4 linked regions of the Homo sapiens genome follow. The protein of the gene in region 1 purifies or fractionates together with the protein of each later gene. This does not show direct contact. Each region holds a gene or a part of one and is shown in the gene's direction. Other genes may lie near its edges.

What was found.
Region 2: the proteins of NFIX (region 1) and CUX1 purify together in Homo sapiens (affinity purification with mass spectrometry, with the first as the bait; one large-scale study listed by BioGRID). This does not show direct contact.
Region 3: the proteins of NFIX (region 1) and PRR12 purify together in Homo sapiens (affinity purification with mass spectrometry, with the first as the bait; one large-scale study listed by BioGRID). This does not show direct contact.
Region 4: the proteins of NFIX (region 1) and RCC2 purify together in Homo sapiens (affinity purification with mass spectrometry, with the first as the bait; one large-scale study listed by BioGRID). This does not show direct contact.

The regions. Positions count from the first base shown.
Region 1 is NC_000019.10:13,001,975-13,005,474, forward strand, and holds part of NFIX (nuclear factor 1 X-type), read left to right. Parts: intron 1-3,500.
Region 2 is NC_000007.14:102,195,126-102,198,625, forward strand, and holds part of CUX1 (Homeobox protein cut-like 1), read left to right. Parts: intron 1-381; coding exon 382-478; intron 479-1,508; coding exon 1,509-2,180; intron 2,181-3,500. UniProt on the Homo sapiens protein: May be involved in intra-Golgi retrograde transport.
Region 3 is NC_000019.10:49,597,682-49,601,181, forward strand, and holds part of PRR12 (proline-rich protein 12), read left to right. Parts: coding exon 1-332; intron 333-1,590; coding exon 1,591-2,257; intron 2,258-3,500.
Region 4 is NC_000001.11:17,422,678-17,426,177, reverse strand, and holds part of RCC2 (protein RCC2), read left to right. Parts: intron 1-493; coding exon 494-637; intron 638-3,341; coding exon 3,342-3,473; intron 3,474-3,500. UniProt on the Homo sapiens protein: Multifunctional protein that may affect its functions by regulating the activity of small GTPases, such as RAC1 and RALA. Required for normal progress through the cell cycle, both during interphase and during mitosis.

The DNA.
Region 1 (3,500 bases):
CCTCCCTCTGTCTGCCCGGCGCACATTGATCTTGGCTTCTGCCTGTGTCCGTTCTAGCCTGGCCAGCTGGGTGTCCGGCTGTCTCCGTGGGCCTGAGCCCACTATCCCCGCTGCCCCCACAGCCAGGCAGGCCCTGGGCCCCACACCCCTGGGCCACCCGCCATCCCTCCGAGGCTCTGAGGGCGCGGATTTGGAAACTGAGGTCCCCCCTTCTTTCCCCCTTTCTCTCTCTCTCTTTCCTCCCTCTCTCCTCCCCTCCTCCCCTCCTCCCGCTCCCTCTCTCCCTCTCTCTCTCCTCCTGCCAAACGCGTCTTGGCTCCGTCTGAATATCTCTCCTCCTCGATTTTTGGCTCCAGCTCTGGGCGCGTTCACTAAAGGAAGAAGGGCTAGCTCCCCAACCCCCCCTTCCTCACCACCTCCCCCCTCCCGAGGAGCCCCTCTGAGGGCGGGAGTGGCCTCGTGCAGGGGCCTGGGCCCCCTGAGTGGGCTTGGCCAGGGGGGCACAGGCCTGGCGGGTGAGGGAACAGGGTGGACAGGGCCTGGCAGCCAGAGGGAGGCAATGGGCAGGGTGACTGAGCTGCCCGGCGGGGCGGGCGGGCAGGGAGGGGTCGGGGGCACGGAGCTGGGGTGTCTGGCTTCTGGTGGGGCTGGCAGGCCTCTGTGAGGCGCAGCTGTGCCCAGAACTCCAAGTTGCGTTTGCCACCACTACCGATGTGGCTGCGCCAGCCAGGGAGGGGAGGCGGGTAGCGGGCACTGCGGCGCTCTGCAGCCAATCGGAAGCCGGGGTTGCACTGGGGAGCTCTCCCCCCACTGGGCCCCACCCTGAGGGGAGCCGGGGGTGGTGGCCAGCAGTGGGCAGGGGGCAGTGCCCACCACCATCGCCAAGGACCCTGCCCCCTCAGCTGAAGCTCAGTGCCAGCCTTCCTGGCACAGATCGGGCAAGAGCGGGGATCTGTCTGTCCCCACCTGAATCTGTGTGAGCCAAGCTGGAGGAAAGGACAGCATGGAGGTGCACCCGACCCCCCTGGGCCTTTTAGTCCAAGGCAGGCAGGAGCTAGGGATGGGTTCCAAATTATCCAGGTGGTTCCGTCCAAATATCGGCTTCGGTCGAATCATCTTGGGGAGTTGGGGGGGGGTTTATTCCGGGTCCATCTCACACAAAGTCACACACTCTCACTGGCACATGCGGGCACAAAGAATCACGCTGACACACACTGGCATGCTGCACCTCCCTCAATCAAACAGACACAGGCGTCCCCATACAAAGAATCTTGCCCTCACTCACAGACACCTTGAGGCACCCGGCCACACCCGAACACATCGATGCGGCATTACACACTCAGGGACGTGCATGTGGGTGCAGACACACGGGACACGCGCAGTCACACGATCACATGCCATGAAGCACACAGCACAGACACAGGCTCTGCCACCGTCAAATGCAGCCCCACAGGCACAGCTAGAAACACACAGCACACACACTCAGTCATAATGTCAGTGCCCAAAACACACACATGAGCACCGATACACCCGCACATGCCACCAAGCACACAGGTACATGCACATGCATGCAATAACACGCTCTCAGACACACAAAACACCCCACACACTCCCTAACCCAGTGTCACCCACCAGGAGTGATTTCACCCATTGGGAAATGTCTGGAAACATTTTTTTTTTTTAGAGACAGACTGTCATCTGTAGCCCAGGCTGGAGCACAGTGGTGCGATCTCGGCTCACTGCAGCCCTGACCTCCCAAGCTCAAACGATCTACCCATCTCAGCCTCCTGAGTAGCAGGGAATACAGGTGCATGCCACCACACCTGGCTAATTTTTAAATTTTTTTGTAGAGACAGAGTCTGGTTATGTTGCCCAGGCTGGTCTTGAATTCCTGGGCTCAAGCAGTTCTCCCGCTTCACCCTCCCAAGTAGCTGGGACTACAGCCGAGCACCACCATACCCAGCTAATTTTTAAATTTTTAGTAAAGATGAAGTCTGGCTTTGTTGCCCAGGCTGGTTTTGAATTCCTGGGCTCAGGTGATCCTCCCGCCTCGGCCTCCCAAGGTGCTGGGAGCCATGAGCCACCATGCCCAACCTGGAATCATTTTTGGTTGTCACACTTGTGGAGGGGGTGCTATTTAGTGAGTGGAGACCCAGGATGCTGCTCAGTCCCCTACAATGGAACCCCTCAACCCTCGCCGACCACAAAGAATGATCCAGCCCCAAATGTCAGTAGTGCCAAGGTTGGAAACCCTGCCATGCATCCCCAGATACACAGTAACACACACAGGCACAGCTAACCCTTGACACTCATTACACATGCACCCACATACACAGTCACACCCAAACAAGACGCCAGCTGACAGTGTCACACACACACACTCTCCCTCACTAGGACCCAGGCATTGTCGCATATATACCCCATTTCCCCTGCCAAACCCAGGCACAGTCGGCGTGCCATGTACACAGTCCAGTGTTACCCCAGCACACAGGGACGAGAGCCACACCCCCACACATATTCGCACCTGGGCCACACCTGGCAGTGGTTGGAAATGGTGCCTGAGAGCTGAGACCTGCCCTGGTGGCACCTCCCCTCTGCTTGTCAGCCACAACCAGCTGTCTTTGCGCAGCAGCTACAGCCACCCCAGCTTCTCAGGATAGAATTGGGAGCCCCAAATCCCTGCCCTGGTTTGTAGAAGCCTGGGGTGAGACAAAGCCTGGAAAAACCACATGCCCATCCCTGCCCAGGACACTCGCAGTCTTCTAGACTCCGTGGTCGAGGGCTCCACCCTCACCTCCTTGCTCCTGGCAGCCACCGAGAGAAGGGATGGGGACAAAGCTAGGTTCTTTTTTTTTTTTTTTTTAAACAGTCTCACTCTGTTGCCCAGGCTAGAGTGTAGTGGTGCAATCTCAGCTCACTGCAACCTTGGCCTCCCAGGCTCAAGCAATTCTCATGCCTCAGCCTCCCGAGTAGCTGGGATTACAGATGTGCACTATCACACCTGGCTAATTTTTGTATTTTTAGTAGAGACAGGGTTTCTCCATGTTGGCCAGACTGGTCTCAAACTCCTGGCCTCAAGTGATCCGCCCGCCTCGGCCTCCCAAAGTGCTGGGATTACAGGCGTGAGCCACTGTGCCTGGCCAACAAAGCTAAGTTCTGAGACTCCTGTCCTCCGTGGGGCTGTCTCACTAATCCTTTGGCCTTTGACTCCCCAGTTCTGACCCCAGAGAAAGAAGAGACAGCGGTCAGCAGAATGGTAGAAGAAGATAGGATAATAGCAAAATAAATGTTTGTCCTAAAAATCGTAGCAACAGCTAATGTGAACTGTGTGCTTGCTGCGTTGCACCCTTGCTAAGTGCCTTCCCAGCTTGTCTTCTTGAATCCTGTGTTCAGCAGGTACTGTTATTAGGAGAGTGGGGCCTGCAGAGCCAGCTTCCTGGGTTTGACTCCTGGCTCTGCCACTCACTAGCTGTGTAACTTCAGGCAAGTTGCTTAACCTC
Region 2 (3,500 bases), on another chromosome or scaffold:
AAAAAAAGAAAAGTTCCCTTTACAGTAACGTTCGGACAGACGTTTGTGGCTTGGCAGCCAGTCTTATGGCCAAATGAGGCACGGGCTCAGGTCGCTTGAGTTTGAGAACAGATGAGAGAATAATTAATTTTTTTAGGAGCTGTGGAAGTCTAAGAAGGAAAATGACTTCAACTAGAATCCATTCTTTCTAAAGGGAACTTGTTTTCCACGTGTGTTAAACGACTTGGGGGGAAATCAGCTGTCCGCAGCCCACTTCCTAATCAGATCGAGAGCTGGGTGGGAACGCGGACAGATGGAGGGAGGCAGGGCTCCAGGCCTGGTGGCCCCGGGAGCGGGTGAGTGGCCGGCCCCGCAGTGAGACCCCCGCTCTGCCCCTTCTAGGATGCGGCCAAGCCCCTGGAGGTGCTGTTGCTGGAGAAGAACCGCTCGCTGCAGTCCGAGAACGCCGCGCTGCGCATCTCCAACAGCGACCTGAGCGGTAGGTTGGCCGGGCTTCGCGCGTGTGCGGTGGTTGGTTCGCTTCCAGGGGTCGGTCGAGGACGAGGAAGGTGAATCGTGAGTCTGGACAGATGCATGGCCAGAGAAGCGCCGGTTGACGAGAACCTTTGACTAACGCGTGTTGGGTGCCCTCCTCCTCACCGCTCCTCCCTTCCCTTCCCCGCCCTGCTTAAAGCTGGATGTCGAGACGGGCCAGCCGCACAGGCTCTGCGGAGGTCAGTTAGGGGCAGTGCGGCTGGAATCCCCGGGAGGGACAGCTCGGAGGACGTCGGCCTTTCTGATCTGTGTCTGGTTGTGCTGCACAGAGGCCAGGGGCAGTGTGAACCCAGCCTCGCTCTGGTGGTGTTTTCAGGGACAGCCCCGGGCCTGCCGGGTCCAGTAGAGGTTTTTCTTCCTTGGTCAGGTTTCCCCTGGGGACGCGTCCCCCATCCTTAGCCTTTCTTGGCTCATCCCCCAAATGGTGGCGTCACTTGACTGTGCTTCTGGTTTGGGCAGCTGGTAAAACGCGTACAGGTGTCTCGGGCTCTAATGGTATTGCATTCTCAAAACGGGCGCGCGCCTCCACATCGAGGGGGCTCGGTACGGTGCATCGCCTCAGAGCAAGAGGTGCGAGCGAATCCATTGGTCCTAAAATGTCAGTGTTTGCTGCTCCTCCGGCCGGGGCCAGCGGGCCCAGTAAGAGGCCCGCGACCCGTCAACTCTTCCCTGTGTGTGTCACCAGCTCCTTGTCACGCTAGGAGTTTGAGTCTATGTCAAGGGGACTCTCCAGGCTGCAACGTACAAGAAAGGCGCAAACATGAATGCATGTTGCTTGTTTTGGGAAGCCTCGTTTGGCTGACTTACAAATTTAATCGGAAAACAAACCAACCCACCTCATTGGCCCTTGTAAAAAAAACCTGCACTTTTTTTTGTTTTCCCTTTTGCGGGGGCAAACTTTTGCATTTTGGTCTTGGTTTTTTTTTCCCCCTTTGGAATCCCCCATAATGCATTCTGTTTGCCCTTCCTTGTAGGGTCAGCCAGGAGGAAAGGGAAAGACCAGCCTGAAAGTCGGCGCCCGGGATCTTTGCCGGCCCCCCCTCCTTCTCAGTTGCCCCGCAACCCGGGGGAGCAGGCTTCCAATACTAATGGTACACACCAGTTCTCACCAGCGGGGTTAAGTCAAGACTTTTTCAGCTCATCCCTGGCAAGCCCCAGCCTACCCCTGGCTTCTACAGGAAAATTTGCACTAAACTCTCTTCTCCAGCGGCAGCTAATGCAGTCCTTCTACTCCAAGGCTATGCAGGAAGCCGGAAGCACAAGCATGATTTTTTCAACAGGTCCATACAGCACAAACTCCATATCTTCCCAAAGTCCATTACAACAAAGCCCAGATGTCAATGGCATGGCCCCATCCCCCAGCCAGTCAGAAAGTGCTGGGAGCGTCTCCGAGGGCGAGGAGATGGACACTGCAGAAATCGCCCGGCAGGTCAAAGAGCAGCTGATTAAGCACAATATCGGACAACGTATTTTCGGACATTATGTGTTGGGACTGTCTCAAGGGTCCGTGAGCGAGATTCTGGCCCGGCCCAAGCCATGGAATAAACTGACTGTTCGTGGCAAGGAGCCATTTCACAAGATGAAACAGTTCCTCTCCGATGAGCAGAACATCCTGGCCCTCCGTAGCATCCAAGGCAGACAAAGAGGTGAGAGACTGGCGTTGGGTGGCGCCAGCGTGCGAGCCCGTCACAGAGTTGCACATGTGTGTGTGCATGCGTGCGTGTGTCTGTGTGCGTGATGAAACATTTGTGCATCACATCAGGTAAAGTTCTCTTTGCTTCTGCCACGTCCAGAGCTCAAGGGTGGCCCGGCATGAGTTAAGGCTGTTAGATTTGGGAGATCTGGCCTTTGAAACGCACTCAGCACTCCATACTTAGGAAACCCTATAGTATTTCAATACTAGAGATCGTATCAGAGGGAATTGCATTACATGATGTATAGCGTCTCCGTATGCTTAGTGGCCGCGGGTCCAATTGGCCTTGGGTGCTGGTCTCACTTTTGGGAGGAGCCCTTAAGTCCCCTCCAGCCCCATAGCAGCAACGTTGACTGGGCTCGATCCTCATGCAAAGCTGGTTCTGTAGGGAGAACACATCACAGATGACACCTCCCCTCTTCCCACCCCGCAGAAGAGGGCGTGTCCCATGGCCACCTTCCCTACATTGTTCACGGTCCATTAGTGATTTGTTTAGCATTATGAGTAAAACAGGCCTGGCTTGAGTAAAATACACAAAAGTTTTATTTAAGCACCCTTTCTACCCCACCCTCCGTAAAAAGATAAAATGTCAGTCACATTCATAATTTCAAAAAATCCCAGCCGGGCACAGTAGCTCACGCCTATAATTCCAGCAGTTTGGGAGGCTGAGGTGGATGGATCGCTTGAGTCCAGGAGTTCAAGACCAGCCTGGGCAACATATATTTTGTAATCTTTTGATCTACAAAAAAATCAAAAGGTTAGCTGGGCGTGGTGGCGTGTACCTGTGGTCCCAGCTACTTGAGAGGCTAAGGCAGGAGGATGGCTTGAGCCCAGGAGGTGGAGGCTGCAGTGAGCCATGATTGAGCCACTGCACTCCAGTCTGGGCAACAGAGTGAGAACCTGCCTCAAATAAAAAAACAAAAAAGAAAGTTCCTTTTCTGTTTAAGACCAGGGGATCAATGTGCCACATCAACAGAGCTATTGAGAGGTCATTTCATCAGACATGTTTGAAACACCCTGAAATTTAGACTCAAACAGAGCAGGGAGATGTTTTGAACAGCATCAATTTGCACCAAGAAAATGCAGTGTTTTATGAGGATGTTAACCGAAATTGAATGTCTTTGGATGATTAATGCGAGCTTTGTTCTGGGGGCTGGCGGGTGATCCTCCTTCAAGGCAGTCCTCCCTCCCATGGACCTCCCTGGCCTCAATGCCGTAGGTCGCTACTTAGATTTCCCCCATCTCCTTTTGCAGCAGAGCCACGGCCTCTGCG
Region 3 (3,500 bases), about 37 Mb from region 1:
TCAACCCCCGGCGCTTGCCTGACCTGGTCTCCAGCTGCCGCTCCCGTCCGGCCCTCTCGCCACTGGGGGACATCGACTTCTGCCCACCCAACCCAGGACCCGATGGCCCCCGGCGCCGTGGCCGCAAGCCCACGAAGGCGAAACGTGATGGGCCACCCCGGCCACGGGGGAGGCCCCGGATCCGCCCCCTGGAGGTCCCGACCACTGCGGGGCCCGCCTCGGCCTCCACGCCCACCGATGGCGCCAAGAAACCCCGGGGCCGGGGCCGAGGCCGGGGTCGAAAGGCTGAGGAGGCAGGGGGCACCCGGTTGGAGCCCCTGAAGCCACTTAAGGTGAGGGGAAATGGGGTCTTGTAGGGGATAGGGGAGGAGGAGCTGTGTCCGATGTTTGAGTCTTTTTTTTTTTTTTTTGAGACAGAGTCTCGCTCTGTCGTCCAGGCTGGAGTGCAGTGGCACGATCTCGGTTCACTGCAAGCTCCGCCTCCCGGGTTCACGCCATTCTCCTGCCTCAGCCTCCCGAGTAGCTGGGACTACAGTTGCCCGCCACCACGCCCGGCTAGTTTTTTTGTATTTTTAGTAGAGACGGGGTTTCACCGTATTAGTCAGGATGGTCTCGATCTCCTGGCCTCGTGATCCACCCGCCTCGGCCTCCCAAAGTGCTGGGATTACAGACCTGAGCCACCGCGCCCGGCCTCCCGATGTTTTGAGTCTTAAAGGACAGGTTTATGGCCGCACCTTGGCATTTTTGGGGCAGGGGGATAATAAGGTTTACATTTCTAAAATCTGTGAGGAAGTTAGCGTGAGGAATTTCAGGGTCTCACTGACAGAAAGACCTAAGAATTGAAATTCTGAATCTAGGCTGGGCAGTGTGGTTCATGCCTGTAATCCCAGCGCTTTGGGAGACTGAGGCGGGAGGATCTCTTGAACCCAGATGTTCGAGACCAGCCTGGTCAGCGTAGTGAGACCCTGGTCTCTATTAAAAACACAAAAATTTAGCCAGGTGTGGCTGCGTGTACCTACAGTCCCAGCTACTCAAGAGGTTGAGGTGGGAGGATCTCTTGAGCCCAGGAGTTCAAGGCTGCAGGGAGCTATGATTGCATCACTGTGGCCTGGGCCACAGAGTGAGACCCTGTCTCAAGAGATAAAGGAAATTCTGGGTTTAGGGAGAGAGGCAGGAGGTTGGAGCTTACGCTGGTTTGAAACTCCTGACCTCAAGTGATTTGCCTGCCTCAGTCTCCCAAGGTGCTGGGATTACAGGCACGAGCCACCTCACCCGGTCTGCTTGCTTTTAGTTTCTATATCCCAAAGGATGGGCATTCAGGGATCCTACATTCCTGGGTCTCATGGGAAGCGGGTCTAGGGACCTGAACTGGGCTGTAAGTGAAGAGGCTCAGTGAGTCCAAGTTCCTGGTCTTCTGAGGGAGGAACTCCAGTCTTGTCCTCCTAGAATCTAAGACAAGGGGTCTGCAGGTTTGAATTCTATAAATTCACAGGCTGAGCACCTGTAAATTTGGATTTTTGGGGGCTGAGGGAGGATGGGACTGGGGGCCCAGGCTACTGGGCCCTCACGGCCCGCCACTCCCATGTCTAGATCAAGCTGTCTGTGCCCAAGGCTGGCGAGGGTCTGGGAACCTCATCGGGTGATGCCATATCAGGCACTGACCACAACAGCCTGGACTCGAGCCTGACTCGGGAGAAGATCGAGGCCAAGATTAAGGAGGTGGAGGAGAAGCAGCCGGAGATGAAGTCGGGTTTCATGGCCTCCTTCTTGGACTTCCTCAAGTCAGGCAAGCGCCACCCACCACTCTACCAGGCGGGCCTGACGCCTCCGCTCAGCCCTCCCAAGAGTGTGCCACCCTCTGTGCCAGCCCGAGGCCTGCAGCCCCAGCCCCCTGCCACCCCTGCTGTGCCACATCCCCCACCTTCCGGAGCCTTTGGGCTTGGGGGCGCCCTGGAGGCTGCAGAGAGTGAGGGTCTGGGGCTTGGCTGCCCTTCACCCTGCAAGCGGCTTGATGAGGAGCTGAAGCGGAACCTCGAGACGCTGCCCTCCTTCTCCTCGGATGAGGAAGACTCTGTCGCCAAGAACCGAGACCTGCAGGAGAGCATCTCCTCCGCCATCTCTGCCCTCGATGACCCACCCCTTGCTGGGCCAAAAGACACTTCCACCCCAGATGGGCCGCCCTTGGCCCCCGCGGCTGCAGTTCCAGGGCCACCCCCTCTTCCGGGGCTCCCCAGTGCCAACAGCAATGGCACTCCCGGTGAGCTCTGGGCAGGTGGTCTGGGAGTAGAGCTTAAAGGTTATTATGATCACTAGGTAACAGTTGTGCAGGTTACGCACTGTTTAAGAGACACCATTCACATACATGGTGTAAGCTTGCGTGTTTATGAAGGGACTTTCCTGATTACACAAGCATTTTGAGGAAGGTCTATCTTTTTCTAATTCACTCAGAGGTGCTAAGTGGACTAGGAGGGGCCCCAAGGCAGACACTGGAGAATGCAGGGAGACAGGGCAGGTGATAAGTTACAGGGACAGGACAGGGGCTACTCAGGTTCTGAATGGTGGGAGGTGTGGGAACTGAGGAGGGCTCTGAGTCAACTGTGTGTGAAGGTACAGAAAGATGTCTGGGGGCAGAGAAAGACTTGGGGATGGGGGTGGGCGGTGGAAGGGAAGGCTAGGGGCATAGGAAGGGTTTAGGTTGTGCTCTGGTTTTGGACACAGTTTAAGGAGTGTAATGTCAGAAACAGAGGCATTGGGAAATGAGAGGTGGGAGCTTACAGGAGGGCACAGAGGGGAGTGTTCAAAAAAAAAAAAAAACCATGACAGGCCGGGCATGGTGGACCACACCTGTAATCCTAGCACACTTTGGGAGGCTGAGACAGGAGGATCGCTTGAGCCCAGGAGGTTGAGGCTGCAGTGAGCCATGATTGAGCCACTGTACTCCAGCCTGGGTGACAGAGCAAGACCCTGTCTTAAACAAAAAACCCCAAAAACAAAACAAAAAGACCCTATAACGTTCTTTTTTTTTTTTCTTGAGACAGGGTCTCTCTATGTCACCCAGGCTGGAGTGTGGAGTGCAGTGGTGCGATCTTGGCTCACTGCAACCTCTGCCTTCCGCTCACCGCAACCTCTGCCTTCCAGGTTCAAGTGATTCTCCTGCCTCAGCCTCCCGAGTAGCTGGGACTACAGGCGCGCACCACCATGCCCAGCTAATTTTTGTATTTTTAGTAGAGACGGGGTTTCACCATGTTGGCCAGACTGGTCTCGAACTCCTGACCTCAAGTGATCCACCCACCTCAGCCTCCCAAAGTGCTGGGATTACAGGCATGAGCCACCATGCCTGCCCTCTGTGAGGTTCTTAAAAAGCCTGAAGAAGGGAGCTGGCAGACAGGGGAGAGGTTAGCAGTCTGCATACTGGTGAGCAGGCCAAGGAAAGGACAAAGATGGTCCTGGAGGGAGGAGGATGAGGCCTTGGAGGAAGAGGAGGTGAGGAAGTAGAGTTA
Region 4 (3,500 bases), on another chromosome or scaffold:
GGGAAAGGAGGGGCAGGCGGCAGGGAGTGAGGAGGAGGGGTAGGTTACTGTCAGGGTGAGCGGGGTTTCCTGGGTCAGCCTCTTCCTCAGCTGACGGCTGTGGAAAGCCAGCACTCCTGCCTCCTGGACAGACCTCGCACCAGGTCCCGGGCACTTGCGGGTGGGCGTGCTCAATGGCAGAACACGTGGGGCTGAGCCCTGTGAGAGGTGGGACCCAGAGAGGGGGCTGGGGCCGAATGGGTGTAAAGGTGGCAGGTGACGCCAGGCCTGTGCCAGCTTCTGGGTATTTTGATTTTTGGGCCTTCAGAGGCATCGCAGAGATTCGAAGTGAAAACCCGATCCTTGTGCAGCCTCCCAACAGCCAAGGCAGGGTGGCACCCGAGGAACACCTGTCCCTGGTACCCTCGGGAAGTGGCTGCTTGGTGGCCAGTGACATTTTGGAGGTCACCCCACCACCCCAGGTGTCTGATCTGCATTCTCATTCTCTCTGCAGCTGCTTACCGCAATCTCGGTCAGAATTTGTGGGGGCCCCACAGATATGGGTGCCTGGCGGGGGTCCGGGTGCGGACAGTGGTCTCGGGCTCGTGTGCTGCACACAGCCTCCTCATCACCACGGAAGGGAAGCTGTGGAGCTGGGGTGAGTACCGTGCGGGTGCTGGGCACTGGGGACCACTGTCACCAGCTGTCCCCACACAGCACGTTCTTCTGTTTGCCTGGAAAAGAGACTCGCGTCTTATAAGGCTGGGCTCCTTCGTTCACAGCCCATGTCTTTTTTCCTAATTCCCAGCTCGTCTCTTGTCTACACGCTACATGCAGATCCCCTTCCCCCCTGACATTTTTTGCCCATACGCAGCCCCTACTTCTTTGATTCCTTGTGTTTACACAAGGAACATTTTCCTGAATCTTCTGCCCGAAGCTTGATCTTTTCTGATACTGAGGTGTGTGAGTGTGTTAGGCAGGCTGTCCTTCCAGCAGACAGTTTCCTTCCTCTTTGAGGCACGATATGACATGAGACCTCTGTTGCTGCCACTTGAAATGCCACTGGCTTTTCTACCTCCCGCCTCATGTCATAGGATGCTGCGTCCCTGCCGCCATGGCCCTCGTGTCTGAGGTCTGCCCAAGTCTGGTCTGCAGGCTTGGCAGCTCACTGTCCGTGTTGTCTGCTTCTTAGGATATTTCCCCAGATACTTCAGTTTGCTTTTTTGGAGTTGTTCGGCTTTCCCTTCTGTTTTTCCTCACCTGGGCACTCGGGATGGGTTCCAGTTCTTCTGTTAGCCTCTGTCCACGGCACTGTCCTCTGCAGCCGGCCGGCCCATTCCTGCCCGTGTCCTCTTCCAGATCATTCCAATCATAGGGTATGGGCTAAGGCTCATTTTATCCCCAGCCCTTTTGGTGACTCCCGGCCTCTGCCTCCAGCGGGGCATATTGGCGTTTGTCCCCACCCTTTGTCGCTGGTCCTCTGGCTAGCTTTTAGTCCATATGACTGCATTTTTATTTTGGGCTGTTTGAACCGTTTTTTGTGATTTCATGAGCTGCTGTACCAAAGTCCAAATATATTAACATCTGTTGTCTTCCCTGCACATGGCTAATTTTGTAATTCTGTTGAAAAAAGCTAAAGTGTGTCTGGCCCAAATTTATACTTTATAGTCTCTTGATGACATGCTGACATTGCCACAGTTTTTGTTTTCTCCCGGTTGGCATAGATGTGTGTCCCTTCCCCCAGAGCACCCCTCCTACTTTGTGTTCCAACACTGAACACAGCCTTTTATGTCAGTGTTCCAAACTTAAAATACCTCAGTTCTGATCTCTCGCTGAGCTTCACTTGCGTGGTGGCTCTGAAAGCGCCCTCAGTTCTGACCCTGTGGGCAGGGACAATGTATGTCCCGCCATCAAGACGTGTGATCCCCGAGCAGACAGTGCAGTTGGTGAGGACAGGGTTGGAAGGTGTCACAGGCCCACTGCTCGCCACTCTAGAAGGCAGGGGGCGGCGTCTGGTGTGAGTAGAGTACCACGGGAGGGTGGCTGACGCATTGCTCATGTGGGGTCTCCATCTGTGGCCCGCTCACCCTGTCCTGCCGCATCTCAGTCCACTGAGACTTGCACTTGTTGCTCTGTATTCACATGCCTTTCACATGAACTTGGGCAGCTCCCATTGGAAGCTGGTGTATCTGCCTCTCCTGCTCGAGTGCCAGTGCTGGCCCTTCAGCCCGCCGTTCTTTAATTAGAGCGAGTCAGAGGCTGGTTTCCCTTCGTCGCAATTCCTTCTGTAGTCAGAGGCTGCTCCTGCAAGCCTTCTCCAGGACAGCTGGAACTCATCTTAATGGCTCTGCTGTCTGCCTTTATCACAACCTAAGGGTGAAAAGTTCATTGCTGGAGAAGGTTGCAAAACCCCCTAGAATTGCCCTGACTTCTCACCACTGTAAGATCTCCGTCAGTTTCCCCACGTCAGGTTACATGTGTGGTTTTTCTCTTATCGGGAGGGATCCGAGAGTGGCCGGTTGAATTTTTGTTTTGGAACTTGGTAGTTTGTGTTGAAACCTAGATGCGGTGTAGGGGCTCCCAGCCCTCCTTTTGGCCCACCCAACTTCCACGTCTGTTTGGAGTTGAATTTGGTTCTGCAGAGGACTTGGGGGTAGGGGTTGGCCCTCAGGCCTGCCTTCCGCTGGAATTCACAGATACAGGGCCTTGGTCGCACCTGCAGCAGTCCTGGAGGTGGGGCTGGGCGTGTTGTGTTGAGGGTGGATCTGTGCTTTGTCACCAGGGTTCCTGTGGCTGAGAGTCCTTGAGGGGCGATCCCTAGGGGTGGGATTGGCACTGTTATGTGAGCACCATTTACAGGGTAGAAAAAGGAAGAGAAATATTGGGCAGACACCAAATGGTCCTCAGTGGATGCCCAGAGCACCAAAGTGATTAAACTCTGGTGAGCCAGGTGTCAAAATGGGGTGCTGTCTTAAAATACATCTCAGAGGGTAGGGACGGGGTGGTTGTCTTGCAGGCACTCTAAGTGGGAACGGCGTGTTTCTGCGAGCATGCCCGCCTGTGCATGGTGTCCCTACCACACTGAGCCTCTCATTTCCCTTTGTAGCAGAGACGTGGGAGGTGTGCACGGGTGGTCCCGCTGCTGCCCCAGGGAAGGAGGTCCGGGGAGCTGCAGCAGGCGCCATTCCAGCGGGCAGAGGGCCGGGGCGTTCTTTGCTCTGGATCTTGGCTGTTGGGAATTTGGAGGGTACCTTCCAGAGACAGATGGGCATCATTTGAGAGTGTGTTTGTACTCGCCTTCTCCTGGTGGTGCCGCCTGGACCACCCTCTCTCTTTTCTACTTTCTCTCATGTGATCTGCAGGTCGAAATGAGAAGGGGCAGCTGGGACATGGTGACACCAAGAGAGTAGAAGCCCCTAGACTCATCGAGGGTCTTAGCCACGAAGTGATTGTGTCTGCAGCATGTGGGCGGAACCACACCTTGGCCTTGACGGGTAAGGAGGTGGCTGCTGGTGTCTCCT